Regions from separate parts of the Homo sapiens genome. Here region 1 is linked to region 2. The links come from fine-mapping of genetic effects on gene expression. A gene starts in region 2. The other region holds a variant in brackets. All regions are shown on one strand. Distances are between the middles of the regions.

Region 1 (16,577 bases), 130 kb after region 2:
TATAATTTGGTTTTGGTCATTAAAACACAATGAAATATAGGAAATATAGCCTCACTTAACAAGGCCTGCAAGGGGCAGGGCATATTTTGTTTGAAATTTTTAGTTAACACAATGAGATAAAAATAAGTTTGACTCTCCATTGTACTATATTTTTATTGTGTATTAGTATACTTTCTCTTTCAAAAATCAAGTGCATAGTACTGAACATACCTAAAGCTTTCTCAGGATTAATGATACTGAAGTTTTTGAAGTCATCAGTTATAATATCATTTTCACGTAAGAGTAACAGATTTGGATGTATTAAGAGATTTATACTGCAAGTTTGCTCCTTGCTTCAATATCTTTTCTTGAGGTTTCTTTTTTTCCTTCTAAAAAGTAGAAGGAGGGAGGAATCGAATTAATTGAGGGCCTTGGTTAGTTATAGTTTTACTGTTAAGAATGCTACAATTTGGGCCAATTTGGTCTTTAAGAAAGCTTCTTTAAATCCCAATATAGAAAAAATCCCTTCTATGTGAATATGTTTACTATATCATTTATAATAGTAAAATGTTGAAAATAACAAAACGAGGAAAGTGGCTTTATTATTATGTTTTATCTATCTAATATCTGGTAGTGGAAAAAATTAGTTTACTCTATTGCTTTATATTTGCAAGTGGATTGGAATTTGGAAATACTTATGAACAAACAAACATGTCTCCTACTTTGTGCAGGTCTGAAAGTCAGATTAGCCTTTAGCTAGTTTGCATGATTCATCAAGACTAAATTTTATACTGGCTGGTATACAAGAAAATAAGATATTTTGTTGCTTCAGTAATTTTGATATAATCAAAACTCATAAGAAGAAAACATGAGCTTCCTAATTACTACATATTCACTTAGTGAGTTGAATAATTTATTATCCTTTTTTAAAAAACCTGATCCTACTTTCAATGTTCCAGTTCCCATTTTCTGCTTCCTTCCATTTATTTTTCTTTCTGGCCTGTTCTGCAGAGTTTGCACAAAAGATATAGCTTTATTTGTATACAGCTATTTATTTCCTAGTATGTGGACTAGTATCTAGGAAACTTGCCAAATTAGCATAGTTATGCCAAAGTACAGAAACTATGTGTATAAAATGTGCACTTGGGCCTAATATTGCAGGCATTGCAGCTTTTTAGATAAAGCTGTCGTTGACTAATTTATTTCTGTATCTTCTAGTTGTCTCCTAGACACAAGTTGGTTGTTTTTGTTGTTGTTTAAACAAAACATTTAATATTTTTTATTATAAAATAACACATAAAATATCTATGTTGACTGCATTGCCCAATATGGTAGCCACTAGTTACATGTGGCTATTTAAATTTAAATAAATTATAATGAAATAAAACTGAAAAAAATGCAATTTCTTAGTCACACTAGCCACCTTTTAATAGTAGTTAGTGGCAACTGTACTGGACAGCAAAGATTTCCAAATTGTATAGAATTCTATTGGATAGTGCTGATTGATGTCTTAACCCTACTTCCTCCACCCCTTTTCTCCAAATCAAAGGTAAGTTGTGGCCATATTTCTACTTTACCAACTATAACTCTATGCTATCATTTTTCTTTTTCTTTTTCTTTTCTTTACATTTTTTTTTTTTTTTTTTTTTTTTTTTTGAGACATGGTATTGCTCTGTTGCCCAGGCTGGAGTCCAGTGGTGCAATCACGGCTCACTGCAGCCTTCACCTCTGGGGCTCCAGCAATCCTCCCACCTCAGCTTCCTAGCTGGGACTACAAGCATGCACCACCACACCCAGGTCACCATGCTTGGCTAATTTTTCTATATGTTTTGTAGAGATGGGCTTTTGCCTTGTTGCCCAGGCTGGTCTCAAACTCCTGAGCTCAAGCAATCTGCCGACCTTGGCCTCCTAAAGTGCTGGGATTACAGGTGTGGGCCACCATGCCCAGCCTATGCTATAATTTTTAACGCTGCATATTAATCCACTGCCTGGCTGTGTTTTAATATATTTTCCTAGTCTCCTATTCATGGATATATAGGTTGCTTCTGTTTTTTCCCTATTATAAAAAGTGTGGTGATTATTTTCTTTGAGAATACATCTTTGTATACTTGTCTAAAATATTTAAAATTGGAATTGCTTAGTCAGACTGGGCACAGAGGCTTATACCTGTAATTCCAGCACTTGGGGAGGCTGGTGAGGGAGAATTGCTTGAGGCCAGGAGTTTGTGACCAGCCTGGGCAAAATAGGGAGACCCTGTTTCTACAGAAAAAAAAAGAAGGAAAAGGAATTGCTTGGTCAAAGGCTATGCATGTTTTACATTTTAGTACATGTTGTTGAACTGTGCTCCAGAGACCATATTAATAAACAATTCCTTGGTTGATTGTGAATATTCTTATGTACTGGGGCAAGTGACTGAAATTCTCTAAGTCTCATTTAATTTTTCTGTTCAAAATAGGAATAATAGTATCTACCATTTACCTTACTAGGTAGCTGTGAGATACAAATTAAATAATACATGTAAATACTTTTAAAAAATGAAAGTGCTACTGTCACGTATAGTATTCATACTATGAAGCCATCCGTTGTTGGAAGGATGAAAGTCAGAGACCCTGAATCCTCTGTGATCTTAGTTTAACACTCAAAATAAGGAATGGTGGTAACATGAGCTTTAAAGACTTCCTCATGGGAAAGAGAATCCTAGCTTCAGAAACATAATTTATTATTGTAGACATAAGCACACCAATATGAATGTAGGATTTTCCATTCAAGGACATTTAGAGAAGTGGGATAATTTTTGTTTTAATCTGAGAATTGGGTAACATATCATCCAGCTCCACTCCTCATTCTACAGATGAGAAAGCAGAGGCCCCGAGAAGTTGAATTCTCATGTTCAAACTGCTGACATGTGGCAGAATCTAGGTTAGACCTCAGCCCTCTGACCCTCTATCCAGCGTCCTTTCCTCTATATCCCACAGCTCTAATGATATAGTCACGAGGTGGCGGGATTTTTTCTCTATCCCTCAGATGAAAATTAAGCCAGTGTTGTAATCTAGTTTGATAACTATTAGTTATCTAGAAGTGTATTCTTAAAATCAATGCCTGTATAGGCTTACTGGGCTATTTGAAAGTCAGGCTACTAAATTCTTATTAGCCACTTGAAATTCCTGTGGAGATAATAGAATTTTTCTTTTCTTTTTTTTTTTTTTTTTTTTTTTTTTTTTTTTTTTTTTTGAGACGGAGTCTCGTTCTGTCGCCCAGGCGGGAGTGCAGTGGCGCGATCTCCGCTCACTGCAAGCTCCGCCTCCCGGGTTCACGCCATTCTCCTGCCTCAGCCTCCCGAGTAGCTGGGACTACAGGCGCCCGCCACTGCGCCCGGCTAATTTTTTTGTATTTTTAGTAGAGACGGGGTTTCACCGTGGTCTCGATCTCCTGACCTCATGATCCGCCCGCCTCGGCCTCCCAAAGTGCTGGGATTACAGGCGTGAGCCACTGCGCCCGGCCGAATTTTTCAAACTGACTCTTTAAGCCAAATTAGAAATAAAATCTTTTTCTCATGAATGGCATCCAAGTTAGACAGCATTCCTTAGAAGTGAATTATTTGGTAAAGCTCTCAGAGTCTGTCTGTCTTTGGCTCATCTCTGAACTTTAGTTCATTTCATTTTATGACTTTACATGAAGAAACCATGAGTACGGATGGCCTCAAGTTATGCAGGAGATTTCAGTCAGCCTGCAAAACAAACCAGATGGCCAAGTCCTCTCAGAACTGTCTGAACATGTCTCAAAGTCCATTCCCTGAATCTATCCCCAGGTACCTTCCTCAGGATCTCTCTTTTCACTGGCATTTTAAAAAATATATCTGATAGAAGCTAGCAATAAATAACTAAGAGAAATTGAGATTGATGGCCCTTTTATTTCTTTGCATCTAGGTCTTGTATGAAGCAGCAGAGCTTTTATATTTAGAAAGGGAACACCCCCTTCAGCGAGTCATGTGCTAGAACACAACCGATGAGAATGCTTGTCCTTCTATAGCAAGGCTCGCAAGGTTTCTGGGCAGAGCTCAGCTTCTCATGTGGCCATGCCTGACTCCCGTGCCACAAGGCTTTACATGCAAAGCAGTAGTTGGTCTTGCACTTGCTAATGTTTTCAACTATGAAACAGTAGAAAATGAGGTCACATGAGGCAAGGACTAATGCTGGAGCAGACCAGCAGGAAGATAAATTACAGTGAAAACTTGACCTTCCTTCCTTCCTTCCCTCCCTCCCTCCTTCCCTCTCTCCTTCCCTCCTTCCCTCCTTCCCTCCTTCCCTCCCTCCCTCCCTCCCTCCTTCCCTCCTTCTCTCCTTCCCTCCTTCCCTCCCTCCCTCCTTCCCTCCCTCCCTCCCTCCTTCCCTCCTTCCCTCCCTCCCTCCTTCCCTCCCTCCCTCCCTCCCTCCCTCCTTCCCTCCTTCTCTCCTTCCCTCCCTCCCTCCTTCCCTCCCTCCCTCCCTCCCTCCCTCCTTCCCTCCCTCCTTCCCTCCTTCTCTCCTTCCCTCCTTCTCTCCTTCCCTGCTTTCTCTCTTCCTCTCTTCCTCTGTTTCTCCCTTTCTCCCTTTCTTCCTTTCATTCTGGGTCTTGCTTTTTCACCCAGACCAGAATGTGGTAGCATGACCATGGCTCATTGCAGCTTCAACCTCCTGGGCTCAAGCTATCCTCCCACCTCAGCCTCCTGAGTAGCTGGGACTACAGGTGTGGGCCACCACACCCAGCTATTTTTGTTTCAATTAAAAAACAATTTTTTTTTTTAGAGATGGGCCTCACTATGTTGCCCAGGCTGGTCTCAAGCAATCCTTCCACCTTGGCCTCCCAAAGTGCTGGGATTACAAGTGTGAGCCACCATGCCTGGCCAAAAACTTGATTTGTATGTGATATGAAAATATGCAGATAATACACATATTTAGGTCTTTAAAGAGTTTTGCTTTTTAAATTTCAGATTTCTCTTTTGCTATATATAAATAGGCATATAATTTTAGATTTGAAATGAGTAAGATTATTTTCCCCAATGTAAGTGCTTCTTTATGTTAAATTGTTTTCTTTCTTTTATTCATTTAAAAATTGGGTTGTCTATTTTTCTTGAACATGCAGCAATTAGATAGTGTGATGATTTGGATGTGAGAATTATCCATTGGAATACTGTCTCAGTGTATTTGCCAAATTGTCATCAAGCATAATTTACTCAAAATCCTGAGATTCTTCCTTGAAAATTAATTTGAAAATAAATTTGCTTGCCCTCTCCTCTTTTGAAGCAAAATTGGTTCACTTTAAAATTTTCTTTTGTGATGTTGTTGCTAGGGGAACAATATGGTAAACCTTGTAATCTCTGTCCTCTTTATTTTCTTTAGATCTACTCTGATCTGTTTTTATCAGTTCTGTCCTATTTTAAAATTATATAACACTTGTAACCTGCCCCCAACCTACTTTGGAAGTACTGAAGTATAAATCCTAAACAAATGACTGAATTTACTGACTATGCATCTGCCTAGATAAATGGGTTGGGGGTAAAGGTGATTCACCAAAGAAGGACATTCTGGAGTGGCTGCTTTGATTAGAAGAAGGGATTTTATTGTAATCTTAACCTGGTGATTTTTTTAAGAGCTGAAGATTTTATTTGTTTCTGTTTTTTTTCGGTGGTAGAGGAGCATATGTAGTAAAGGACAGATATATATGCATTTCAAAAATTTAGAAATGGCTAGACTTAATAAATACATGAGTATAGTTGATTATAAAGCAGAAACAGTAATAGTGCTAATACCGATGGGATCCATGGAAATTGGCCTAAATGTTTTCACGGTGTCTTATATGAAAAGCAACATTCACCATGGTTTAATTTTAATGCTGAGCAGTCTTATACTACTTTCAATGTCATTAGTGCCATCTTACTTAATTTGTCAAATCTTTCAAAATGAAGAAAAAATAGAAATATTGTCTTTAGGCCACAGAAATATAGTTTAATTTTGACTTCAAAAAAACCAAAGAGATCAAAATCTTTTTACAAAAACCAAAATACAAGCACAAAGCTATAATACTATTTAAACAAATCACCAAATACAACTGTTTTCAGAAGTAAACATGCAAAATTTTTTGTTTTATTATCAAATAACAAAAATATTTAGCTGATGACAAGTCTTTTAAAGTGAATTATGCTATCAAATTGAAATTTTTGTGGATGTGTAATCTAAGTCAATCAAGTACATGTTATCATTCGATAATGGTTTGTCAAATGGCTGGGTCAAAATATCTGTCTCAAAATAGGTACCTTAAATTATCATGTATCTGTGGTTGGCAGGTAGGACTGGTCGTGACCAGAGTCAGAGAAGAGGATCTTGTCCAAGGACCCCAAATATAACTCTTAATGGACGTGCTGTTTCTTTTGTGCTAATAATTTTATGCATTTTTAATCAAAGGAAGATACTAACTTACCCAAGAGGAGGGAATTACATGCATTAGGAGAAATAATTTATATGAAAAAATCAATGATCTTCAACTTATGATGTTGAAATAAATGGTAGTCTTCAAAATACTTTTAAAACTTCAAAATATGGGATGGAAATTATAAATTTAGCCAAGATGTAACTTCATAGACAGACTTTTTTTATTGCCCTCTGTCTGAAATTATATCAAATCCACAAGGTAGCTAGCATCTCTTATATCATATTAGTCAGGGAACTCTGAGCAGCAGTTAAATGTGTCACTGATTAAATGGAAAAAAACAAATCATTTCTGAATAAATTTAATTTGTTGAACAGGCACAATAGACGTTTCTTGGTGAAGACAAGGCTGGACTACTACTGAGTGGTATCTACTGAGTAGGGCCTGAGGAAATCCAATATAGAAAAGGTAGATATTGATCAAGTGGGAAAGGGGGAAAGGCTGAAGCTCCCTTGGCAATGGACATTTTTAGCAGTATCAGGTAAGGTCTTGAGGATTCTGAACCCTATTACATCTTCTTCACTGTTTGGCTTCAAATGGCCCTGGTGTGGAATAGAGGTAACTCAGAATTAGAAACTTGCCTTGGGTAACTGAGAGTTCTTAATATAACAAATATGGTGAGAGTATTCCCTCTCCCATCATACCCAGTAATGTGCTAGGGGAGGCTGAACTAAAAAAAAATCTTAACCTTCTTGTTAATTAAAGGGTCAACTTTAGAACTTCAACACAGTACTAGATGAGAGAGCAAAACCAAACAGAATGATGACCACGCTGGAAATTCCTCCCTGTGTGCTGCTGGCGCTGACATCCTGATAGAGTTCAGGCGCCTGGTGAAGCTACACAGAC[G/A]GTGCCTGGTCTCCAGACCACATGCTTTTCATCTACGTCATAAACATGAAATTTCTGAATTGTTCCATTGGCATTTTCATCTCTGTTTAGATAGAGATGTTATAAACTTTAGTTATATAATTGGGACCCATATCATGCCAAAGTAAAAAATTTAAACATTTCCATTCACTTGCCTGAGACCTCCTTCTCCTAATTTTGCAAAGCTGACTTGGTCATTTCAGTAACTCACAATTATTTACTCTGACATTTTGGGATTACATCAGACATTCTATGGTACAGTTATTTTCCAATGACCAAAGTCATATCTTATTCTATCTGCCTACTTGATAGCAAGTTAGTGTGAGTGAAAAGCCTTGGCAAATACATATAAGTATATAAAAGAAAGTTAATTTGTTTAGGATGGAAATTCTTTTACCACCCTAGAACTGCATTAGCATCATAATTATTTCAAATTTGCTTTCATTTTTAAGAAGGGTGCCCAAAGTAAAGTCTACTTAGAAAAAACAATTTTTTAGATTAAGATAATGATCATTTTTCTAATTATGTACATCTTTAATATATGCTCCAATAACTATGAGCTGAGAGTTGTAATGTTGTCTCCCTATAAACTTGAAGAAGCTTTTAACTTCTGGTATGTTGTTTTTTTCTTCAGTAAAGTAAGGATAAATACTGACTTCAAAAAATTCATGAGTGGTAATGATGTTACCTAATTTTTGCAGATGACAGAAGCTGTATAATTATATATGTTGCTGATGCTATACTTAGTTTTATATATTCTTAGGAAGTTTTCCTATATTATTTGTAATTGTAAATGTCGCTGAAAGTATTATTAGTAGTCACAATAGGAATGAAGAAAATGAACAACATAAAGAGTTGATTACCATACAAAGTTATTATTTTTTACAAAAGAGGTTAAGGAGCAGAATAACATCTTTGCAGACAATAAAAGCATGCCAGAAATAAATGCCCACAAAATAAATGAAAATGATACCTAATATTTCCAACTGAGCCAAAAACAATTGAGAAAATGATAGAAGCTATGAAATAAAAACATGAATCAGAATTTTAAAAACTCAGAAATATGATAATTGAAGAGAAGGAAGATTTTAACAGAGAGGTAAAGTCAGGAAAGAATTAGAAATAAAAGGAAAAAAGAATTTCAGGAATGAAGACTATGCTAGAAGGAAGGAATGCAAGGACAAAATAATGCAACAGATATTAGTTTAAGAAAAACAAAGTATGGGTGGGAGGAAAGACATTCGTAATAGCCCCAAACTAGAAACAACCCAGATATCCATCGATTGGTGAAAAGATAGAGAAAATGTTATTAATAAAGGAACACTACTTGGCAATAAAAATAATTGAACTACTTATACATACAACAATATTAATCTCAAAAGCATTATGCTACATGAAATAAGTCGGATATAAGAAAGACTATGTGCTGTGGAGTTCAATTAGATGACATTCTAAAAGATGGCAAAACATAGGAACAAAATACAGATCAGTGGTTGCTAGAGATTGAATTATGTATATGTGGGTAAGGGGGAGGCAATTGACTGCAAAGGGGCATGAGATAACTTTTTGGGGCAATGAAAATGTTCTAGAGTTTGGTCATACAGCTGTTTATGAATATTTGCCAAACTATACTTATAAATGATGAACTCTATTGTATGTTTACTACAATTCAGTAAAAAAATAAATAATAAAGGGATAAGGTTTTGAGAAAAAGTGATAGATACAGACAGATTGCTAAGAGTATTCAACACATACATAATAGAAATCTCAAAGAAAGAAAACAAAAACAGTGGAATAGAACCAATATTAACATCTTCACTTCCCTGAAATAAGATTTAAATGATTTAAAATTTCTTATTGGAAAGGCATACATATAAGAAAAAAAATCTACCTAGAAAAGTAAAAATCACTGGATTACAAAAAGGAAAAAAAAAAAAAGAAGAAAAAATTCAGTGGTCATCCAGTCTTAACAGCCAAGTCATTAATAAGAAAAAAGAATATCAAATTGTCACCGAAATTTGTCAACTGATTTTTTTTTTTCAGAAGACAGTGGAGTAACGTATTTAGGATACTCAGGGATGGAAAATGGGAGCTAAGGGTTTAGCCACATAGAACTTCAGGTATAAAGGCCACAGACAAACTTGCAAGAAATAAGGACATATTTTTCCCATAAATAGTTACTGCGGAATCTCCTGGAGAATATATGTTAGGTAATCAGAATGATGGGAGAAATATCCATGTAAGGACTGCTGGCAGTGATTGGCTGCTCAAAAAACATAAAAATAAAGACAACCATACAACTCTTGACAAAACCATACAACACCATCAATAAATTAGTCTTGCCAAAAAAGAAAGGAAAAATACAACTTAATATAATCAAGCCTTTAGATCTAACTGTCAATTTCCAGGAGAATTGGACAGAGAGAGAGGGGAATGTGAATTAGTGAATTAGATAAATAATATCATGGGGCTGCAATCAGCAAACCCCAGGCTGTGTGAAACTCTACAGGACAAACAACCCTGTTTCTTCAACAAAATTTCCAGGATAGAGAGGGAGACAGAGAGAGAGGAAAGGTACAGATTAAAAGAGATATAAGAGATATATTAACTGGCCAAGATGGCTGAATAGCAACAGAAAGCAGGTGATTTCTCCATTTCCAACTGAGTTACCCATTTGATCTCACTGGGGCTGGTTAGGTAGTGGGTCCAACCCACAGAGGGTGAGCAGAAGCAGGGTGGGGCGTTGCTTCACCCGGGAAGTGCAAGGAGATGTGGGGACCTCCCTCCCCCAGCCAAGAGAAGCCTTGAGGGACTGTGCTACCTGTCCAGTTACTATGCTTTTCCCACGGTGTTTGTAATCTGCAGATCAGGAGATTCCCTCGAGTGCCCACATCACCAGGGCCCTGGGTTTCAAGCACAAAACTGGGCAGCTGTTTGGGCAGACACCAAGCTAGCTGCAGGAGTTTTTTTCATACCCCATGGGTGCCTGGAATGCCTGAGAGACAGAACAGCTCACTCCCCTGGAAAGGGGGTTGAAGCCAAGGAGCCAAGTGGTCTTGCTCAGCGGGCCCCACTCCCATGGAGCCCAGCAAGCTAAGAACCACTGGCTTGAAATTCTTGCTGCCAGCACAGCAGTCTGAGGTCAGTCTGGGACTACCAAGCTTAGTGTGGGGAGGGGCATCCACCATTACTGAGGCTTTAGTAGGCAGTTTTCCCCTGACAGTGCTAAGGAGGCTGGGAGGTCTGGACTGGGCGGAACTCACCACAGTGCAGCAAAGTAGCTGTGGCCAGACCTTTTCTCTAAATTCCTCCTCACTGGGCAGGGCATCTCTGAAGGTAACAGCCCCAGTCACGGGCTTACAGACAAAACCTCCATGTCCCTGGGACAGAGCACCTGGGGGAAGGGGCAGCTGTGGTTGCTGCTTCAGCAGGTTTAGTTGTTCCTGCCTGTTCTCTGAAATGAGCAGCTGATCCTGACAAGAGGGATTCTCCCAGCACAGCCCACCATCTCTGCTAAGGGACAGACTGCCTCCTCATGTTGGTCCCTGACCCCCGTGCCTCCTGATGGGGAGACACCTCCCAACAGGGGTCAAAGACACCTCATTCAGGAGAGCTCGGGCTAACATCAGGCCAGTGCCCCTCTGGGACGAAGCTTCCAGAGGAAGGAGCAGGCAGCAATCTTTGCTGTTCTGCAGTCTCCACTGTGATACACAGGTACACAGGGTCTGGAGTGGACCTCTAGCAAACTGTAGCAGACCTGCAGAAGAGGAGCCTGGCTGTTAGAAGAAAAACTAACAAACAGAAAGCAACAACAACATCAACATCAACATAAAGGACCCCCACACAAAAACTCCATCTAAAGGCCATCAGCCTCAAAGATCAAAGGTAGATAAATCCACAGAGATCAGGAAAAACCAGTGCAAAAACCCTGAAAATTCCAAAAACCAGAATGCCTCTTCTCCTCCAAATGATTGCAACTCCTCTTGAGCAAGGGCACAAAACTAAATGGAGAATGAGATTGACAAATTGACAGAAGTAGGCTTCAGAAGGTGGGTAATAATGAACTCCTCTGAGCTAAAGGAGGATGTTATAATGCAATGCAAGGAAGCTAAGAACCTTGAATAGAGGTTATATAAACTGCTAACTAGAATAACTACTTTAGAGAGGAACATAAATGACTTGATGGAGCTGAAAACACAGCATGAGAACTTCGTGAAGCATACACAAGTATCAATAGCCAAATCAATCAAGCAGAAGAAAGGATATCAGAGATTGAAGATCAACTTACTGAATAAGGTGTGAAGACAAGATTAGAGGAAAAAGAATGAAAAGGAATGAACAAAGCCTTCAAGAAATATGGGACTATGTGAAAAGACCAAACCTATGATTGATTGGTGTACCTGAAAGTGGCAGGGAGAATGGAACCAAGTTGGAAAACACACTTCAGGATATTATCCAGGAGAGCTTCCCCACCCTAGCAAGACAGGCCCACATTCAAATTCAGGAAATACAGAGAATACCACTAAGATACTCCTTGAGAAGAGCAACCCCAAGACACATAATCGTCAGATTTTCCAAGGTTGTAATGAAGGAAAAAATATTAAGGGTAGCCAGAGAGAAAGGTCAGGTTACCTACAAAGGGAAGCTCATCAGACTAACAGCAGATCCCTCTGCAGAAACCCTGTGAGCCAGAAGAGAGTGGGGGCCAATATTCAACATTCATAAAGAAAATTTTCAACCTAGAATTTCACACCCAGCCAAATTAAGCTTCATAAGCAAAGGAGAAATAAAATTCTTTATAGACAGCAAATGTGGAGGGATTTTGTCACCACAAGGCCTGCCTTATAAGAGCTCCTCAAGGAAGCACTGAATATGGAAAGGAAAAACCAGTACCAGCCACTGCAAAAACACACCAAAATATAAAGACCAATTACACTACGAAGAAACTGCATCAACTAATATGCAAAATAACCAGCTAGCGTCATGATGACAGGATCAAATTCACACATAACAATATTTACCTTAAATGTAAATGGGCTAAATGCCCCAATTAAAAGACACAGACTAACCAATTGGATAGAGCCAAGACCTATTGGTGTGCTGCATTCAAGAGACCCATCTCACGTGCAAAAACACACATAGGCTCAAAATAAAGGTATGGAGGAATATTTACCAAGCAAATGGAAAGCAAAAAAAAAAAAAAAAAAAAAAAAACCCGGGGTTGCAATCCTAATCTCTGATAAAACAGTCTTTAAGCCAACAAAGATTAAAAAAAAAAAAAAAGACAAAGAAAGGCATTACATAATGGTAAAGGGATCAATGCAAGAAGAAGAGGTAACTATGCTAAACATATATGCACCCAATACAGCAGCACCCAGATTTATAAAACAAGTTTTTAGAGACTGACAAAGAGACTTAGACTCCCACACAGTAATAGTGGGAGAGTTTAACACCTCACTGTCGATATTAAATGATCACCAAGACAGAAAATTAATAAGGATATTCAGGGCTTGAACTCAGCTCTGGACTAAGCAGACCTAACAGACATCCACAGAACTCTCCACCCCAAATCAACAGAATATACATTCTTCTCAGTGCCACATAGCACTTATTCTAAAATCAACCGCATAACTGGAAGTAAAACACTCCTCACCAAATGCAAAATAATGGAAATCATAACAAACAGTCTCTCAGACCACAGTGAAATCAAATTAGAGCTCAGGATTAAGAATCTCACTCAAAACTGCACAACTACGTCGAAACTGAACAACCTGCTCCTGAATGTTTACGGGGTAAAGAGTGAAATTAAGGCAGAAATAAATAAGTTCTTTGAAACCAATGAGAACAAAGAGACAGTGTACCAGAATCTCTGGGCCACATCTAAAGCAGTGTTTAGAGGGAAATTTATAGCACTAAATGCCCACAGGATAAGGCAGGAAAGATCTAAAATCAACACCCTAACATCACAATAAAAGAACTAGAGAAGCAAGAACAAATTCCAAACCTAGAAGAAGACAAGAAATAACTAAATCAGAGCAGAACTGAAGGAGATAGAGACACAAAAACCCTTCAAAAAATCGATGAACCCAGGAGCTGGTTTTTTGAAAACATTAACAAAATACATAGACTGCTAGCAAGACTAATAAAGAAGGAAACAGAGAAGAATCAAATAGACACAATAAAAAATGATAAAGGGGATATAACCACTGATCCCACAGAAATACAAACTACCATCAGAGAATACTATAAACACCTCAACACAAATGAACTAGAAGATCTAGAAGAAATGGATAAATTCCTGTACACATTCATCCTCTCAAGACTAAACGAGGAAGAAGTCAAATCCCTGAATAGACCAATAACAAGTTCTGAAATTGAGACAGTAATTAATAGCCTACCAACCAAAAAAAGCCCAGGACCAGATGGATACACAGCCGAATTCTACCAGCAGTACAAAGAGGAGCTGGTATCATTCCTTCTGAAACTATTCCAAACAATAGAAAAAGAGGGAATCCTCGCTAACTCATTTTATGAGGCCAGCATCATCCTGATACCAAAGCCTGGCAGGGACACAACAAAAAAAGAGAATTTCAGGCCAATAACCCTGATGAACATTGACGTGAAAATCCTCAATAAAAATACTGGCAAACTGAATCCAGTAGCACATCAAAAAGCTTATCCACCACAATCAAGTTGGCTTCATCCCTGGGATGCAAGGCTTGTTCAACATATGCAAATCAATAAATGTAATCCATCACATAAACAGATCCAATGACAAAAACCACATGATTATCTCAATAGATGCAGAAAAGGCCTTTGATAAAATTCAACATCCCTTCATGCTAAAAACTCTCAATAAACTAGGTATTGATGGAACATATCTCAAAATAATAAGAGCTATTTATGACAAACCCGTAACCAACATCATACTGAATGGGCAAAAGCTGGAAACATCCCATTTGAAAACCGGCACAAGACAAGGATGCCCTTTCTCACCACTCCTATTCAACATAGCACTGGAAGTTCTGGTCAGGGCAATCAGGCAAGAGAAAGAAATAAAGGGTATTCAATTAGGAAATGAGGAAGTCAAATTGTCTCTATTTGCAAATGACATGATTGTATATTTAGAAAACCCCATTGTCTCAGCGCAGAAACTCCTTAAGCTGTTAAGTAACTTCAGCAGACTCAGGATACAAAATCAATGTGCAAAATCACAAGCATTCCTATACATCAACAATAGACAAACAGTCAAATCACGAGTGAACTCCCATTCACAACTGCTACAAAGAGAATAAAATACCAAGAAATAAAACTTACAAGGGATGCGAAGGACCTCTTCAAGGAGAACTACAAACCACTGCTCAAGGAAACAAGATAGGACACAAACAAATGGAAAAACTTTCCATGCTCACGGATAGGAAGAATCAATATCATGAAAATGGCCATACTGCCCAAAGTAATTTAAATATTCAGTGCTATTCCCATCAAGCTACCATGTCTTTCTTTGCAGAATTAGAAAAAACTACTTTAAATTTCATAGGGAACCAAAAAAGAGCCCGCACAGCCAAGACAATTCCAAGCAAAAAGAACAAAGCTGTAGGCATGATGCTACCTGACTTCAAACTATACTACAAGGGTACAGTAACCAAAACAGCGTGGTACTGGTACCAAAACAGATATATAGACCAATGGAACAGAACAGAGACCTCAGAAATAACACCACACATCTACAACCAACTGATCTTCGACAAACCTGACAAAAACAAGCAATGGGGCAAGGATTCCCTATTTAATAAATAATGTTGGGAAAACTGGCTAGCCATATGTAGAAACCTGACACTGGACCCCTTCCTTACACCTCATACAAAAATTAACTCAAGATGGATTAAGATATAAATGTAAGACCTAAAACCATAAAAACCCTAGAAGAAAACCTAGGCATTCAGAACATAGGCTTGGGCAAAGACTTCATGACTAAAACACAAAAAGCAATTGCAACAAAAGCCAAAATTGACAAATGGGATCTAATCAAACTAAAGAGCTTCTGCACGCAAAAGAAATTATCATCAGCATGAACAGGCGACCTAAGAATGGGAGAAAATTTTTGCAATCTATCCATCTGACAAAGGGTTGATATCCAGAATCTACAGGGAACTTAAACAAATTTACAAGAAAAAAACAACCTCATCAAAATGTGGGAGAAGGATATGAACAGACACTTCTCAAAAGAAGACATTTATGCAGCCAACAAACATATGAAAAAAGCTCATCATCATTGGTCATTACAGAAATGCAAATCAAAACCGTAATGAGATACCACCTCACACCAGTTAGAATGGCGATCATTAAAAAGTCAGGAAACAACAGATGCTGGCGAGGCTGTGGAGAAATAGGAATGCTTTTATCCTGTTGGTGGGAGTGTAAATTATTTCAGCCATTGTGGAAGACAGTGTGGGGATTCCTCAAGGATCTAGAACCAGAAATACTATTTGACCCAACAGTCCCATTACTGGGTAAATACCCAAAGGATTATAAATCATTCTTGTATAGAGATGCATGCACATGTATGTTTACTGCAGCACTATTTACAATAGCAAAGACTTGGAACCAACCCAAATGCTCATCAGTGATAGGCTGGATAAAGAATATGTGGCACATGTACACCATGGAATACTATGCAGCCATAAAAAAGAATGAGTTCATGTCCTTTGCAGGGACATGGATGAAGCTGGAAGCCATCATTCTCAGCAAACTAACGCAGGAACAGAAAACCAAACACTGCATGTTCTCACACATAAGTGGGAGTTGAACAGTGAGAAACATGGACACAGGGAGGGAAACGTCACACACCAGAGCCTGTTGGGGGGTGGGGGACAAAGGGAGGGAGAGCATTAGGACCAATACCTAATGCATGCGGGGCTTAAAACCTAGATGACGGGTTGATACATGCAGCAAACCACCATGGCCCATGTATACCTATGTAACAAACCTGCACGTTCTGCACATGTATCCTAGAACTTAAAGTTCAAAAAAAAAAAAAAAGAGATATATTAACCAATCGATGTGTAGACCCTTTTTGGATCCTGATTCAAAATATAAGCTGTAAAAACAAGATTATATATATATATATATATTTTCTTTCTTAGCAAGACTAATTCATTAATATATATGTATATATATAAAAACAAAACAATTGAGGAAATATATACATATATTGGACATTTGATAATATAAAGGTATTAATTTTTATGGAAGTATAATAATGGTAT
Region 2 (16,577 bases):
CCTCCCAAAGTGCTGGGATTACAGGCATGAGCCAATGCACTTGGCTGGTTTTGGAATTTTTGATTGCATGTCTTTAACTGGCCAGGGGTGGAGAATAGGAGGGAGGATTAAGTTGCTGAGTTTGGCAAACTCAGATAAAAACATTTACTAGGCGAGGTGCCCAACAAGTGCTTGCTACACAACCTATGCTACTCTGGAAGACAGTTCTTGACCCAAAGGAGGTTGAAGTTGTTTCTGTGACAGACAAACATCTGTTTAGTGGAATACAAGGCAGGCTGATGTAAAGTCTCAGCTAGAGGTAAAAGGAAGTTGATACTTATCATAGGATGTAGGATTTCAGCTCTTGTTTATTTCATAGAACCCTAGCAAATGGAAAGACTTGTGAATAGTGTACAACCCTACACTTCATAGAGCTGATTTTTAAGAGTGTATTTGTCAAACTGGATTATTCACTAAAGAAAATGTTTCTACCCCATAAGTAAATCTTTTTTGTTAGAGCTGCTGTGATTTTGTTGTAGTGTACCCTTTAATATATTAATTACTGAAGGATTTTTACCTTGTAAGCATGATATAATTATTTTCCTTAGAAAAAGGAACGCCTTTAAAATTATCTTGGAAATTTCCATTTTTCTATAATGTAATTTGTTTATGCTGGGAGACTATTTGTAAATGAGGATTGATTATCAATATTTTTTCTCAGGTAAGGGGCAGAGACTAAATTGAAAGAACTTGTTGGGTGAAATTGCTGTGTTAGTTACAAGACAGTTGTGAATAACTTGAAAACAGGTATCATGAGCACCACTTTATTTCCTGCAAATAAGAACTCTGATGACACATAGTAGGTGTTTTCTTGCTGACTTGCTTTGTCATTTTAGGTCTAATCTTTTCAGTAGCAAATTATATTTTGGTATTTTAGGCAGTAAAGGAAGGGATAAAGATTTACACATATAAACCTTAGTAGAATCTTACAACGTTTCAAACACTGGGGTGATAAAGAGAAAGCTTGCAGGAAGCTTATCATTGCCTGGAATAGAAATAATGCTATTTTTCTCAAATAATTAAGAATTAAGAAGGACTTATTAAGAAATTGCTTATGCCTAGGAGTGTGACCAAAATAGCAGTACCATAAAGAGCTGTGTACTTGAGGAGGCAAGATTAAGACCTATGAAAACATCGAATGCTAAAACAGGAAAGCCCCAGTTCAAAAAGCTTGTAAACTCCTGTCTAATATGTTCGTCCTCAGTGTTTTCCTTTGCCTGTATAAATTAGCAGCACAATTGTGCTTCCATTAACACATTAAAGCCAGTAGGTTCCATGTCAAATGTTTGTGTTTGTAGTTAAATTCAAAATGAAACAGCAAAACACTGGTCGGCCAGGTGTGGTGGCTCATGCCTGTAATCCCAGCACTTTGGGAGGCTGAGGTAGGCAGACTGCTTAAGCCCAAGAGTTCAAGACCAGCCTGGGCAACATGGTGAAACCCTGTTCTCCAAAAAAACACAAAAATTAGCTGGGCATGCTGGCATATCTATAGTCCCAGCTACTCAGGAAGCTGAGGTGAGAGGATCACCTGAGCCTGGGAGGTTGAGGCTGCAGTGAAGTGTGATTGCACCACTGCACTCCAGCCTAGGCAACAGAGTGAGATCCTGTCTCAAAACAGCAAAACAAAAACAAAAACAAAAACAAATAAAAACACTATAAAGTTCCATAAAGTCAGACAAGAGAAAATCTTGAATTCAGAAGGACGTCAGAGAAATCTCTGAACTGGTTAGGGCAAGTTTCTATGGGCAAAATCACCCCAAGGTCTATTTCAGATTCCAAATCTAATGTTCATTCAAGATCTGATCTACCCTCCCTGGGCTTGTTGAGGTTTTCGTCTTTGCCAATGGAAATTTTGCCTGGGAAAGGAGAGGAATGGAACTCAAGCTCATTGAGATGGTGGTCACTATCATAAATTTGGGAATGTTCAGGAGTAAGGGAGGATAATATCTTGCATCTACCTTGTGAGTAGGTCTTACCAGTTCTGGCCCTGAACCTAACCCTTTGAAGGGTCTCAGCTCTGAGGCTGTGAACCCCTCTGGGACCTAATAGCTTTTCTTTTCCCTTCCTAGGAAGCTGCATGCTACTGGTGCCTACTTATACATTACACAATTTCTCAGATGACTTTGTGAATCAGTTAGGCCTCTGTTTACTGTGACTGAACCTCCAAGCCATACATTGCCTTAAGCAGAAACAGGGACTTTTGGACTCATAACCAACAGAACCAGAGTAAGGCTGATTTCTGGCATAAGTGGTGAGAGGAAAGTGTTCCTTTCTCTCAACTCAGCTCTGCTCTTCTCCTTGTGTTGGCTTTATTCTTAGACAGGTTCTTCATTCATGAATACAAAATGGATGAGCAACTTTAGACTTGACATCCTTTCCTATTCAAAATCAGGAGCCAATAGTGATTTTCAGTAAAATGTTTCATTGCTTCTCAGTGGCTTCAATGGTATCCCATGTACACCTCTGAACTAATTTCCGTGGGTCATGGGAATAGTAATAAACTGATTAGCTTAAGATTGATTGGGTCACATACTCCATTCCTTTCGTTAGATTCCCACCCAAAGCATGTAAGTTTGAGTGTAGAAAAGGTGATATCTAAGAGGAAATAATAAATGCAAAAATTAGGTAACAAAATAACTGAATTTGTATACCATTATTGCTGCTGCAAGTTCTGTTCTGATTGCCAATGATTGATAATCATCAGGTAATAATTTCTTCTTTACATGGCTACCTACATAAAGCAGAGGGATGATGAGCATTCAATAACAATAGCAGCCACACAAATGCACTGTGCCTAAATATCTGATGTCCAAATATTTTTGGCCTCCAAATACTCTCAGAAAACATAGAAAGTGTATGGGTTGAAGCAGCATCCACAGTCAGCATGGGCTTATGATCATATAGGCATGTGGTTAGAGTGTTTGAATACTTTTCTATTTTGTGAATGAAGGTCTTTTTTAAAGCCAAAATTGGGCGCTATTGGTAGAGGATTCACTAAACCCTTTCTCCTTCTGCATAAGATTTTGACGTTTGGTTAACTCTGTAACTCTGTTCCCTTGAAAACAGTAAAATGTCAACCATGTTATTGGGTAACATTGGTTAGGGTAAAAATGACCCTTGGTTAGTGAAAATGACTGCCTTGGAGAAGGGGAATTTACCTGGTCTGGCCCTGACTCTGCTCTCCAAGACGGGCTGTTTGTTTACTCTGTCATAGCCCTGTTCCATTCATTATATTCCCTGGCTACATCTGAAATGGGAGATGAGGAGTAAGCCCTCCTTAGTAGCTAGTTTGAGATAACTATAAATTCTAAGAAGAAGCTGTAGTTTTGGGCTTCTCTGAGTGCAATGACTCTTGTAACCAGGTGTGTCTCTTGGAGGGATCTGGAAGTTATGCCTATGAAGTTGTTACAAAGATATTGGTTCCTGTGAGGAATGAGGTTTTCAAGGCCGGGCACTCTTGAACTTGCCTAATGTGTTCTTACCTGAGTTCTTAAACTGTCACCAGGGGGCCAGATAGAATAGCTTTGGACACTGTATAGATTGTTCCATGGATTACCACAAGACTCCAGAGAAGAGGAATGCCTGATGCTGCTCTGTTGGCAAACTCTCTGAGTAGGCTGGTGCCAAATGTTGACTGTGATAGTCTTATACACCTGAACGTTCAGTTGAGCTTCAGAAGACTCAGTGAAGGTATTGCAGACACATAGGTAAAATGCAGCCTGAAGCAAGGATCATATTCCTGATCTCATGATGTGGCAGAACTGGATAACTATGCATTTTAGCTGTTTCCTTTTCTCTCATGGCACAAAGCTAAATTCTATTTTCCAGCTTATCTTGCAATAGGTATGGCCATTTGACCAAGTTCTAACCAGTGGAATGTGGGGTGGAAGTGAAGAAGGGTACTTCCAGACCTAGCCCATGAAAACCTCCCCTATACCATCTCCCATCTTTCCTCAATTGGTCAACTTATGCCCAGGAATGTAAGGCATTAGAGGAAGGTGAAACCTCAAGAGAGAGGTCTTGAATAACCACATAGAAGGTCATCTGCAGTCAGGAATATTCAGTTAGAGTTCAAATGAATAAGACATACACAACTATATTTAGCCAGAGTAATTTAGCAGCTTAGCTGTGAAATCCATTAGTACTTCCTTAACTAACAGACACATTCCTCAGATCTACAAATTTTCTCATTGTATACCAAGAGATGCAGGCCTGCTGCATTTTCAGAAATGGCTTTAAGATTTTTTAAAACCCTAGCATGCAAACACAAGATGTATGTTTACATCATGAGTTAATGATTTGGAAATAATACTAATTTGCTTTTGAAATAATAAGAATTTGGAATACAACTTTGTCTTTGTTCATATTTTGCTGCTATAACAATATCTAACACTGAGTAATCTATATACAAAGAAGTTTATTTGTTCTGGAGGCTGGAAGTCCAAGATCAAGGGGTTGCATCTGGTGATGACCTTCTTGCTGAATCATAACATTGTGGAAGAGATCACATGGTGAGAGGGTGAGAATGCAGAGATGGAAAAAGGGGGCTGAACTCCTGCAGTCACTAAATTACTCCTATGATAGTGGTATTAGTCTATTCACGATGGCTCCACCTCTTAAGTATCATCACAAGGGCAATTAAGTTTCAACATGAGCCTATAGTTCCAGCTACTTGGGAAGCTGAGGCAGGAGGATTCATTGAGCTCAGGAGTTTGAATCCAGTCTGGGCAGCATATTGAGATGCCTCCTCTTAAACAAACAAATAAACAAACAAACAAACAAAACCAAACCCAGAAAACCAAACCCATGAATTTTGGAGGGAACACTCAAACTATAGCCAATGCCTACTTACAAATAGGAAAAAAATGACCAGGAGGAAACATTTCTATAAATGTTGCTGTCTGCAAATGATACTACCAGATTTCTGTCTTGTCAGTTCAGGATGGCAGAGAAAGATTGGAGGCAGACTGAGTTGTGCTGAAGGTGAGAGAAGTTTTATTTTTTCCTTCTTCTGCAGCCGCAGGCTGAATTGGAGGTTTAGTGGTGTTCTAGCTCATTGCTGTTTACAGTCATATTTACTATGTTGCAGATGGACACCCAATGGAACATTAGTCTATGAAAAAAGGATTCTGTGATTAAATATAAATTAGGAAAATACTGCATACTATATTTCTACAGGAGAGTCTCAATGCATATTAGCAGATTGAAAACTCTTAGAAAATCTGCAACCTATTTAATAAATGCTGATGGGAAAACTGGCTAGCTACATGCAGAAAACAGAAACCGGACCCCTTTCTTATACCTTATACAAAAATGAATTCAAGATGAATTAAAGACTTAAAACCATGAAAACCCTAGAAGAAAACCTAGGCAATACCATTCAGGACACAGGCATGGGCAAAGACTTACTGATTAAAGCACCAAAAGCAATTGCAACGAAAGCCAAAATTGATAAATGGGATCTAATCAAACTAAAGAGCTTCTGCACAGCAAAAGAAACTATCATCAGAGTGAACAGGCAACCTACAGAATGGGAGAAAATGTTTGCAGTCTACCCATCTGACAAAGGTCTAATATCCAGAATCTATAAGGGACTTAAACAAATTTACAAGAATAAAACAACCTCATCAAAAAGTGGGCAAAGGATATGAACAGACACTTCTCAAAAGAAGACATTTATGTGGCCAAAAAACATATGAAAGAAAAGCTCATCATCACTGGTCATTAGAGAAGTGCAAATCAAAACCACAATGAGATACCACCTCACGCCAGTTAGAATGGCAATTATTAAAAAGTCAGGAAACAACACATGCTGGAGAGCCTGTGGAGAAATAGGAACGCTTTTACATTGTTTTGGGGAGTGTAGATTAGTTCAACCATTGTGGAAGACAGTGTGGCGATTCCTCAAGGATCTAGAACCAGAAATAGTATTTGACCTAGCAATCCCATTACTGGGTATATACCCAAAGGATTATAAATCATTCTACTATAAAGACACATGCACATGTATGTTTATTGCAGCACTATTTACAATAGCAAAGACTTGGAACCAACCCAAATGCCCATCGATGATAGTCTGGATAAAGAAAATGTTGCACATGTACACCATGGAATACTATGCAGCCATAAAAAAGAATGAAGCTGGAAGCCATCATTCTCATCAGACTAACACAGGAACAGGAAATCAAACACTGCATGTTATCACTCATAAATGGGATTTGAACAATGAGACCACATGGACACAGGGAGGGGAACACCATACACCAGGGCCCTTCGGGGGGTTGTGGGCAAGGTGAGGGAGAGCATTAGGACAAATAGCGAATTCATGCAGGGCTTACAGCCTAGATGATGGGTTGATAGGTGCAGCAAACCACCATGGCACATGTATACCTATGTAACAAACCTGCATGTTCTGCACATGTATCCCAGGACTTAAAGTAATATAAAATAAAAAAAGAAAGTCTGCAATAAAGGAACATGTTTTTAACACTGTCACTTTATCATAAATAATGATATATAATATAATCTTGTTAGAAAATTTATATTTTATTAAATTATAATTTTATCTATAAATGGATAATTTGTTCAGAATAAACTACCCCAAAATCTTGGTGGTGTTTGTTTCTCACTCATTGCAGCCCAGTGTAGGTCAATAGGTAGTTGGGAGAGGATGGTTGAGCTCCATGCAGTCATTCAGGGACCCAGGCTCCATCCACAATGTGTGGCCATTATCTTTCTGGGCTTCAGAGTTCCACTGGATTCTTTGCATCCAGCTAGCAGGACAGGAAAACATGAAGAAGAGACACTTGGTCTTAGCCACCTTTGGAGTTGATGGTTTCCACTTCTACTTCCGTTTCATTGGTGAGTGCCATTTTGTGGGCAAGCAATTTAGCTAGTCCAGGTTGCTAAAAGTTTGACCTGGCCTCAGGTTTGATGAGCCATCCATTTCTTCCCATCAAATGATTGACTTGCTTCTGGCAAAAAAGATTAACAAGATTCTTACCATCTTGAGAAGCCATATTCAAATCTGGAACACCTGCTCCCACCCTGTCCTCTCCTCTTTATAGCATGTGGATTTCAGCTCTGGAAAGACTAATCTTGTTCTGTAATAGGTCCATGTCTCTTTATCTTCTCCAGAGACTGAAGGGTTCTTCAGAGGTATCTTAAAGAGTCAGCTTACAGCAAATGAGGTTGGAGGCAGTGGTTGAGAATGGCTCATCAGTCTGGGCTCTGGGCTTCTTATCTTGCCTCAACCAAGGCAGTCCAGCTTTGATCTGTATCATTAAAAGAAAGGTTATATTACTAATGAAAAACCTGAAAACTATGGTTATTAGCTAAATCAATCATCTCTGCAGATGAAAAACTTGAGGCCCCAAGAAGTTAATCAATTGGCCTGATATCACACAGATGCTCTAGGAGGACCTGACATTTACAGTTGGGTTTCCTGACTCTCAGATCTGTACTCTTTGTACTGGGGTAGCTGCCTGCTACTTCTCCCCTTGTGTGTGGCATGTGGTCTGAGGTCTAAGATAAAGGGAGGGAGTCAGGCTCTGCTGATGCCACAAAGGACCTAAGCAGGCAGATTCACCTCCTGCTTTTGGTCTCTTAATTCCTCTCTAGATGAAGCAAGAACAAGTCTGTCTTCCCATCTAGGGCAGGGTTGCTCTGTGCGAGGCTGATGGTGCACGCTGCTGGGATATTGGCACTTCTCAGGCATTTTATTAGCTCCTGTTTACAGAGACACTGCCTGAATTCCTTCTGCCACTCATCCCACACCGCCTATGCTGGTGGTTAACAGTGCCATTTTAAAATCTCAAGCAGGAGGAGACAACATAATTGTCTCATGTTTTAAGCTTTTGGAATGTTGTTCTTTTTCAGAGTTGTGAAGACGGAGTGGATACAGGTCAACTTGATTCTGCTTTTCTCTATCAATGGCCTGCAAATATTAAATATGCAAAACATAGGCTGCTCTGTCCATATCTCCTTCTCCCCAGTTCTCACCACATGACGTTGATTTCTGCTCAGGACTGGAAAGAAGTGATTGCTTTAGATTTGCTTTTCTTTTACCAACTGGAGAAATGCCTTACCGTGTCTTGTTTAAATGTGGCTTTTCACACAGTTCCAGCTTTTGGGGTTGGGGAGGGGCACAAATAATCTGTGTGGTAGGCAGTTTTATTGTTCAGAAAAGAAGAAAACAGACCCCAATGTTTGGAATGCCAACGATTTAGGAAGTTTCTAGCAGGTCTGCTACTTGTTCCAACCACTAGGTTTGATCCCAGAAAAGACTCACATGCGTTTTGGCCATGAGAAGGAGGGGTTCCCTGCAGGCCAAAGGAAGGGTCAGTAGAAGTTGAGGGTGGTGTGTTGTGCCCCTCTAGATTCCAAACTTCCCTTTGCTGCCTATCTGATGACCAGGTGAAAGCTGGGTTTATTCTGCATGGGAAGGTTCTGTGGGTTGGTGTTCATCAGGGAAAATAACCAGGACAGACTTCATTGGCCAAGGGTTTGCCCATGTTTTGAGAATTAAAACTTGTTTACTTGAGAGTTAGAGTCATTTGGTCAGCTGTTTATATTCCATTTTTAATTATTTTTGTGCTCGCTGTTTTGTTCTTTTGGTCTTTGACAGATGAGCAAAAATTCTTTTTAATAACTTTTAAAAAGCTATCCCAGTGCTGACCAGGGAGGAAAAAGTGATCAAATTGTCTAATAAGGAAACATTGTACATTTCAGTTTTTATTTGCTTAGTACTAATTCTATTTTCTCCTCCCACCTTTTTTTTCTAAATGTATAACAACAAAGGGGGAGATAATTTTTGTTTTTTCCAAAATGCTTTCAGGGAAATCCCTTTTAAACCTATGGATTTTAGTCCAATGAGGAATCCTCTTCCTTTGGTCTAAATTTTGCATATCGTCTGTTTCTTACAGGGCTTCCGTATTGTCTCAGGCTCCACTGGAAATGCAGCAAGGATTCCTAGCACATCCCAGTTGCCATAGCAACAGCAGTCTTTCCCATAATGAGCTGCATCATCTGAACTGATGTCACAGCATCATGCAGCAGGTCAAACAAGGCATCTCCTAGTATTGCATCCTACAGATGTGCTGTAAACATCAAAAGAAGACGGTGGGATCAGGAGATGGTGAGTGTTAAATGTCTGGGCCTTAATTGCACGGCTGTTTTGTTGGTTAGTCGGTGTCTGCTAAGGCGGAGATTGGGGGATGTTGTCTCTGCTTAAAATGGACTGGGGAAAGAAGGGCTGTTTTACCTAAATCGTTTTTCAGGCTGCCGGGTTAAGACAAAGGCCTGTAAGAGTCATATAGGAATTAAAATATGTAGAATTATTCTTGCTCCAGCTCTGTCTGTTATTTTTAAGTGTTCTTACAGAATTTTTCATAAACATAAGATGATTTTTCAATTGCAAAACCCCAGATAAGCTTTAAAATGAGTAGTTAACAGTATTTAAGCATTGTAAAAATATAGATTTCTTTTTGGGAGGCAGAGCTAATTGGCCCCCTCTTTGCTCTTGTGAATTATGAAATATTCAGTGATTTGCAGTATGAAATTCATTATTTACCTCGGTTGGGTTTCAGTTTCTTCATGGCAAGGAACAAATGCTGAATAAGCATTTGACATAACCCTGATGTGAAAGGGGATCTCTTGCATATTCAAGACAGAATTTATTAAAAGCATAAAAACCTAAACCAAATGAAATTATTTGAGCCTTTTGATCTATATGGTAGTTCTTCAACCCATGTCCTTCAGAGTTAGTTGAAAGACTGCCACATATTTTTCCATCTCTAGCTAGTCTCTGAAATAGCTGGAGTTGTTTGCAGGCTGACTTGTAACTGAGAAAGGAACAAGTCTCCTCTCTGCGGCAGTTGCAGTGAAGGGTAACCCTGGGAGAGCCTCTGAAGTGGCAGTGGTGTTGCCATCCCTTGCTTAACTTTAACAAAAATCTGGGTATGATGAATAAATATCAGGGTCCTCAGTGGTTGTAGGGATTACAGACCTCTGGACTCAGTCATAACCTCAACTCAATTCCAAAACTCTAAACACGTATCATTTTCATTTCAACTCCTAGCTCTGTTTTTAGGCATCTTTATTATTATTATTATTTTCTAAAAAATTAGTCTGACAGTGTCAGATAAGGAGCAGAATGTTGCCTTTTGTTTTGGGAAATGAAATGGATTTCCCTGGTACAGCTGATTGCTACTAGGGGAGAGAAAGGAGGAGGCACATGTCAGTTCAATTGATCAATATGTCCACTTAGAATCAGGGAGTGGTCTTGTGGCTTAATGCTGCCAAATTGATAGTTTTTACTCAAAAAGTCTTACACGAAAGAATGGCAACCATTGAATTCCTCTTCTTTTAGTCTGTTTATTGGGGCTAAAGAGATATATCATGGAAAGCAGGAAAAGCAATACCTTTAGCTAGCTTGGAGTGATTTTTTTTTTTTTTTTTTTTTTTTTTTTTTGCACAGAGTTAAGTATGCTAGTCCCATTAGGCACCAGCCAGAGGAAAGGCCTCAGGTTTTAATTTGTTTGTTTATACCACATCACGCACATGCTTGCTACTCTCAGTCCTTTAAGCTTATGTTTCTGACATGCAGCTGTATAGGATGGGAGAGGTCAGCTCAGCCTGGCTTTATCGCAAGCACTTAGAAGCATGAATTGTTCATTGCCTGCTTTTTTATGTCATATAATGTGAGCAGAAAGCTCTGCTGGGACTGCTGGGTGTGAACACATCTAAGTCGAAAGCTCTAAGGTGACAGGGAAGAGTGCTAGATGGTGATGGGGGAAGGGAAAGTATGTCTTGTAGCTAGATTATAAATCTGGATAAAATCACTTAGTGCCTTTTAGAATTTTCTTAAAGTATTATTTCTGAAGAAGAGCAATGAAGAAAGACTTGTTTGGTAACATGAATTTCTAGGAGTAAAAAAAAGCAAAAGGCAGCATTGTAATGAGTTTTCTGTTTGCTTAATTCTTGTCTCTTTTGTTTAAAGTGCTCTTCAGCTGCTTCATCATGGTTGATTTGTTCAATTACTGGAAGTCACAAAAGCTAGATTCCTTAAGGGCAGTGTTAGAAAAAGTGGAGTCATGCTTTGAGGGTGGGGAAGGGCGCTGGTGGGTGTGGACTGACGCAGTTATCTAGTGGAACATCCTCCCGGTTCAGACAACCCTGTAATTTTTCCCCCCGCAAATGTTCAAAATGCAATTACAGTTCTCCAACTTTATGCTTTTGTGCTCTTTTTGCTCCAGGAGAACAAAGCCCTGGTAATGAGAGCTATCATCCTAATGTTTTGTTTCTTCGTTTCTTTGTAGAGGGCCACAGCCTGCGCTGCTCTCTGATTAGCTGCATGTCTTAATTACTGGCTAAGGCTATTTCAGTTGTCTTAGTTTTAATATATCCCCAAGGGGTAGATGGTGTGTGTGTGTGTATAGGGGAAGGGAGAGATTTCTCTATGGCTGTATTTATTGGTGCCTCACTGAAACTTTCTACAGTTTAAGGAATTTTGTTTCACAGTAATGATAGATCATCAAGACCATGTTTATTGGACAGAGTTTAGGCCATGGAAGCCTCACAAGAAGTTAATGTCCTCTATACTTTTGGTCATGGCTTTCACAAATACATTACAAAGTTACAAAGAAGTTAATTCTTTGCCGATAACTAGGCCGCATAGGGATGATAAAAATAATAATCATAATAACAATCATAGCTATCATTTATTCAGTTCTTACTGTGTATCAGTACTGAATTAAGTTTTGTGTATATCTTATTTAGCCCTTATTATTATTATGAAGTAGAGAGTAATAATCTCACTTTATAGGATTAGGTGTTATTATTCACATTTTGCAAAAACCAGTCCTTAGCCAGGCGAATAAACTTGGCTAAGGTTATGTAGTTAATAAGTGATTGGGCCAGGATTCCAAACCATTGCGATCTGGCTATGCAGCACACATGCTTACCCACGGCCATCTCAGTTTTATGACATCTTTACTGTATATACCATACAGATCAGTCATCTATACTCTATCACACGTACCCCACCCCTCCTCATTCTAATTGGAAAATCAGATTTCATATGTAGAATGAAATGTCATTTGCAACACTAAGGTTGATTTCACTGTAAGGATGAGCATGAATCTTGATCAGATGTGAATATTTACTTTGTACCCAGAGATTTAAGTAATGAAGAGTTGATGCTTAGACTTTTGCCACTGCCCTTGCTTGATATAACTTTCTAGCAGGATCTCTGTATGGAAAATGTTACATCAATAATTGTGGGCATGATGGAGTTGCACTCAAAGCAGGTCTTACCTGAGTCAGTAATGATTCAGCTTTGTTATAAACCTGTCTTATCAGCTATATTTGTGGTGCTTTGTTAACTTTAAGATGTTTGTATTCCCTGCTGTTGCACCAGGTTCTGTTCTCAACCTGGTGTTGAGAACAGAAGCAGAAACTTCTCTCACAGTCTGGAAAGTGTAATCTGAATCTATCTCTTAGGTTAAGAAGATAGAGGATTTATTTTGCTGAATGTATCAGTGGCTGAAACCAAACTCTGTCTATCTCTGACAAAGTACAAGAATGACAGTCTTGTGTAATAACCTGGAAGCCTTGTGTTTGAGGAGAGCTGATATAGTCATTTCTGTATCATCTTGCTCATCCCCAGCTATCCACGCCCAGCGTCATTATTGGGCTCTAAGGGCTGTTCTTTGTTTGAGTGTGGGGCTAATGCACACACTGACAGCATGTTGATATTGATTCCTGTATGGTGAATACTTAGAAATATTATTCCACAGGGCTCATTAGCCTTTTCTAGGTTCCAGGAAGAAGTTAACCTTTGTCCTAACCTGCTCCAAAGAGGCCCAAGCTTGTGTCTGCATGAGGTACAGGAATGAGAGGCTGATCAGAAAGCATCAAAGCTGCTAGGTACAATGACTACAGGAGTTAGGTTCCAATTAGGAAATAAAATAGCCAGTGGAATTTAGGGAAGTTGGTGGTCTTGCTACATGTCTCTGATTTTCTTCTATTTATAATCCTAGAACCCATGAATGGCAGTTTGTTTTGATCGCATGGATTCAATTCAATTCAATAAATATTTATTGAATATCTCCTATATGCCAGGCATTGTCAGGGAATCTATAGCAATGAGCAAGACAGATGCAAATCTCTTCCCCAGCTACATTCTAGAGGGGAAGGGAAAAATGGGTAAATTGGTAAAATAATTTATTTCCTCTAATACTGCAATACTATTTCTATTTACTTTTTATTCCATGTGTTATTAGAGAAGCCCATTATCTGTGCACATTTGTATAGGTACATATAGCTATATGGTTTATATGTGGAGGTAAACTTACTGCATTAAATAATAACTTTTTTTTTTCTTGCATGGGTTTGGATTAGAATCTTTCTGGATGTGGACAAGACCAATATGGCAATTAGTATTTTTTTGGTATAAACTATTTTGAGAAATAAAATTATAATCAGTCAAATAGTGCATGTCTATCTCAGTTGACAAACTTGACATATGGAAATATGAAATGTGTGTGGCAGATCAGTTAAGGAGAGATATTTTTGTTTTTATAAAAGATATTCATCACCTTTAAAAATTGTCCAGAGAGCCCTCTAAATTGAGCATTCCAGCCAGCCTGCTGATGGAGGTATGTATCATACAAGGTACCAACTACACACTTAGTTGTACAAGGACAGGTATACCAGTTACCTTCAGTCTCATCTAATCGCCCTAGTGTGCCTTACAGTATTGCTTTAAATGGGAAGCATTTCTCGAAACAATCATATTGACTGAACTCTGTAGATGGGCCCTGAGTGTGGTTTTTCAGAGGAATAGCAATCCATATAGGACTTTGGCCATGGCAACAGAGTTTTAGGTACAGTAGCCCCTTCCGCGCCCTTATTTGTGATTTAGCCTTTTGTGGTTATGGTTATCCGTGGTCTGAAAACATTCAATGGAAGATTGCAGAAATAAACAATAAGTTTTAAATTATGCGCTGTTCTGCATAGTGCAGTGAAATCTCTCACCATTACTGTTCTGTCCTGCCTGGGATGTGTATCATTCCTTTGTCCAGCATATCCATGCTGTATATGCTACCAGCTTGTTAAGTCACTTAATAGCCGTCTTGGTTTTCAGATCAACTATCTCGCTATCATAATGCCCATGTTCAAATAACCTTTATTTTACTTAATAATGACTCCAAAGCTCAAGATTAGTGATGCTGGCATATTGTTACAATTGTTCTGTTTTATTATTAGTTATTGTTAATCTCTTATTGTGTCTAATCTATAAATTAAACTTTATCACAGGTATATATGTATAGGAAAAAACATAGTATATGTAGGGTTTGGTGCTATCCATGGTTTCAGGCATCCACTGGGGGTCTTGGAACATATTCCCTGATAATGAGGGGGACTATTGCAGTTTGAATTAATAAGGCATACAGTTTCTTCTCCACGAGCACATACCGGTCAGTAATTGAATTCCTGAGTTGGCTTTAAGATTTGGTGAAGATAAAGGACAGACTTTGTTTTCCTCATAAGCCACCAGCCATATTTTTCTCTGTTCTTCAGCCATGGGGCATGCTCCAAACTCTTCCAGCCATCTTGCAGTGGTGTGCTTTGAGTCACAAGGGTAAGTAGGGAGAGAATGTGGAACCTTTATTTTATTTTCAGATTTTTTTTTGGAGACAGGGTTTTACTCTGTTGTTCAGGCTAGATTGCAGTAGTGCAATCATTACTCCCTGCAGCCTTGAAATTCTAGGCTCAAACGATCCTCCCACTTCAGCCTCCCAAGTGGTTAGGACTGCAGGTGCACATCACCCCACCTGGCTAGTAGAGCCTTTAGAATGGGGTCTCAAACTGGCTAATACATGAGCTAAACCTAGCCTGCAGCTTGTTTTGTATGGCTGCTGGGCAGGCTTTATGGGTGTGCAACCTGTGTAGTTGCATAGGGCCCTGCACTGAGAAGGGCCCACACTTAGTTTAATACTCTGCTGTAACCATCTTGGAATTCTTAATAATTTTTTAATAAGAGGCTCCACATTTTTATTTTACAGTGGACCTTATGTAGCCAGTCCCATATGGCCCTTTTGGTGCCCCCACTGATACTGCCTGAGCCCTGTAGATGTTTGAGTTTCAGACTCCCCACTTCCTCCTACTCTGGAACAATTCAAATAGAAATTGTAGTGCTTAGAAAAACTAAGGGACCATTGTCAAAACAACCCAGAGCAAGGCCCTTGTAGATGGTAATTCAGTGGCATGCAAAGGAACTCAGTGGCATTTCTTTTATAGGCAATGGGGGATATATTACATTATACTTGAAGATATTTGGTAGGTGAGGTTTATTTGTCACCACCATTGCTTTCAGGGGAGAAATCAAATCTTCTTTGCAAAGCAAGCTAATTAACCATCCTGTTGGTTCAATGTTTATATTAATTCTCTTGCCCTTTGTTTACTACTTGATTACTTTTATCACCTGCTTTGTTTAACTCTCATTTAAATTACACAACATATTTATGCTGTCTGGGTATTTTTTTTTTTAATACTATCCTTTTCTCCTTTTTTTTTTTTTTTTTTTTTTTAATTCTCTCTCTCCAGGAGGCCAGAGGGCCTATAATTCGAGGTTATATTACTACAGGAAAAGTTCATTTTTTTTTTTCAATTTAAAAGGGAATTATAGTCAATATTTATAATGAACCCTTCTCCAGCAAGGTAGTTCCAGCCATGCTAATGTTCAGAAGTCCATATCTGCCATTACTGTTTATAATAATGAGATGCTGGTGACCAACTCCTGGACCTTATGGTGGGTGAAACATTCCCACCCATCATGTCACAGTGAGAAGTGGCTGTGTTAATCTATTAATCTACAGATTTGCAGAGAGTTGTTAGAAAATGGGTATGAATGATGGCACTTGCTGCACAGGAAAAAGGTAAGTTTTTTTTTTTTACTGTGTGAGTAAACAGGAACCTGACAAATCCAGAAAGGGCTCTTGCCACCTCTTAGAAGCCTAAGAATAGAGTCTTCTTCAAGGATCAAGCCCCAGGAATACAAGACCTTGTACCCCTGAACAATTCTGATACTCACTATGTCCATCACTGTACAAGCTGTAAAACTATCTGTTTCAGATAATTTCACCAGTAGTCAACAATTGACAAATGCATCAGATGTCTACCATGTACAATATCATATGCTAAGAGAACAAACATTTTACAAATAACGATGACTATAGGCACACACACATGTATATTACTTGGAGAACTTGACATACATTTAACATGGTGTTGGCTGGGCTGTGCATACAGATGGTCATGATTAGTTCTTCCTTTTTTCTGAACATACCTTGACATGGAGCTCCAAGCATATCTGTGGAGGCTCTCTCATCTTCTGTTCTCATCCAATTTCTTGATTTAAGTGTTTGTCTAATAACTCATTACTTTTGCTGGCCCACTCAAAATTCTTGTTTCTCAGCCCTTTCTCAGCTTTCTCCATCTTGAGTGCTCATAGTTTGTTACTACTCCACCTCGTC

Which allele goes with the higher level. Positions count from the first base shown, and alleles are read on the strand shown. Sizes are in standard deviations (SD) of each study's normalised expression.
As copies of A replace G in region 1, the expression in lung of the gene that starts at base 9,065 in region 2 goes down (small effect, 0.37 SD a copy in GTEx).

The links.
Region 1: its variant is fine-mapped to the expression of AKAP6 in lung (TOPMed, PIP above 0.99).

Annotation. Positions count from the first base shown.
Region 1 is chr14:32,450,405-32,466,981 of GRCh38, forward strand. The region is part of intron 2 of AKAP6 (A-kinase anchoring protein 6); the gene reads left to right. Among named protein-coding and RNA genes, the nearest start is that of AKAP6, 130 kb to the left of the region's middle. The variant G/A (reference allele first, on the strand shown) is at 7,291.
Region 2 is chr14:32,320,234-32,336,810 of GRCh38, forward strand. It overlaps AKAP6 (A-kinase anchoring protein 6), which reads left to right and starts at 9,065. Exons shown (of 14, transcript NM_004274.5): 1 at 9,065-9,175. RefSeq lists an enhancer at 11,030-11,324.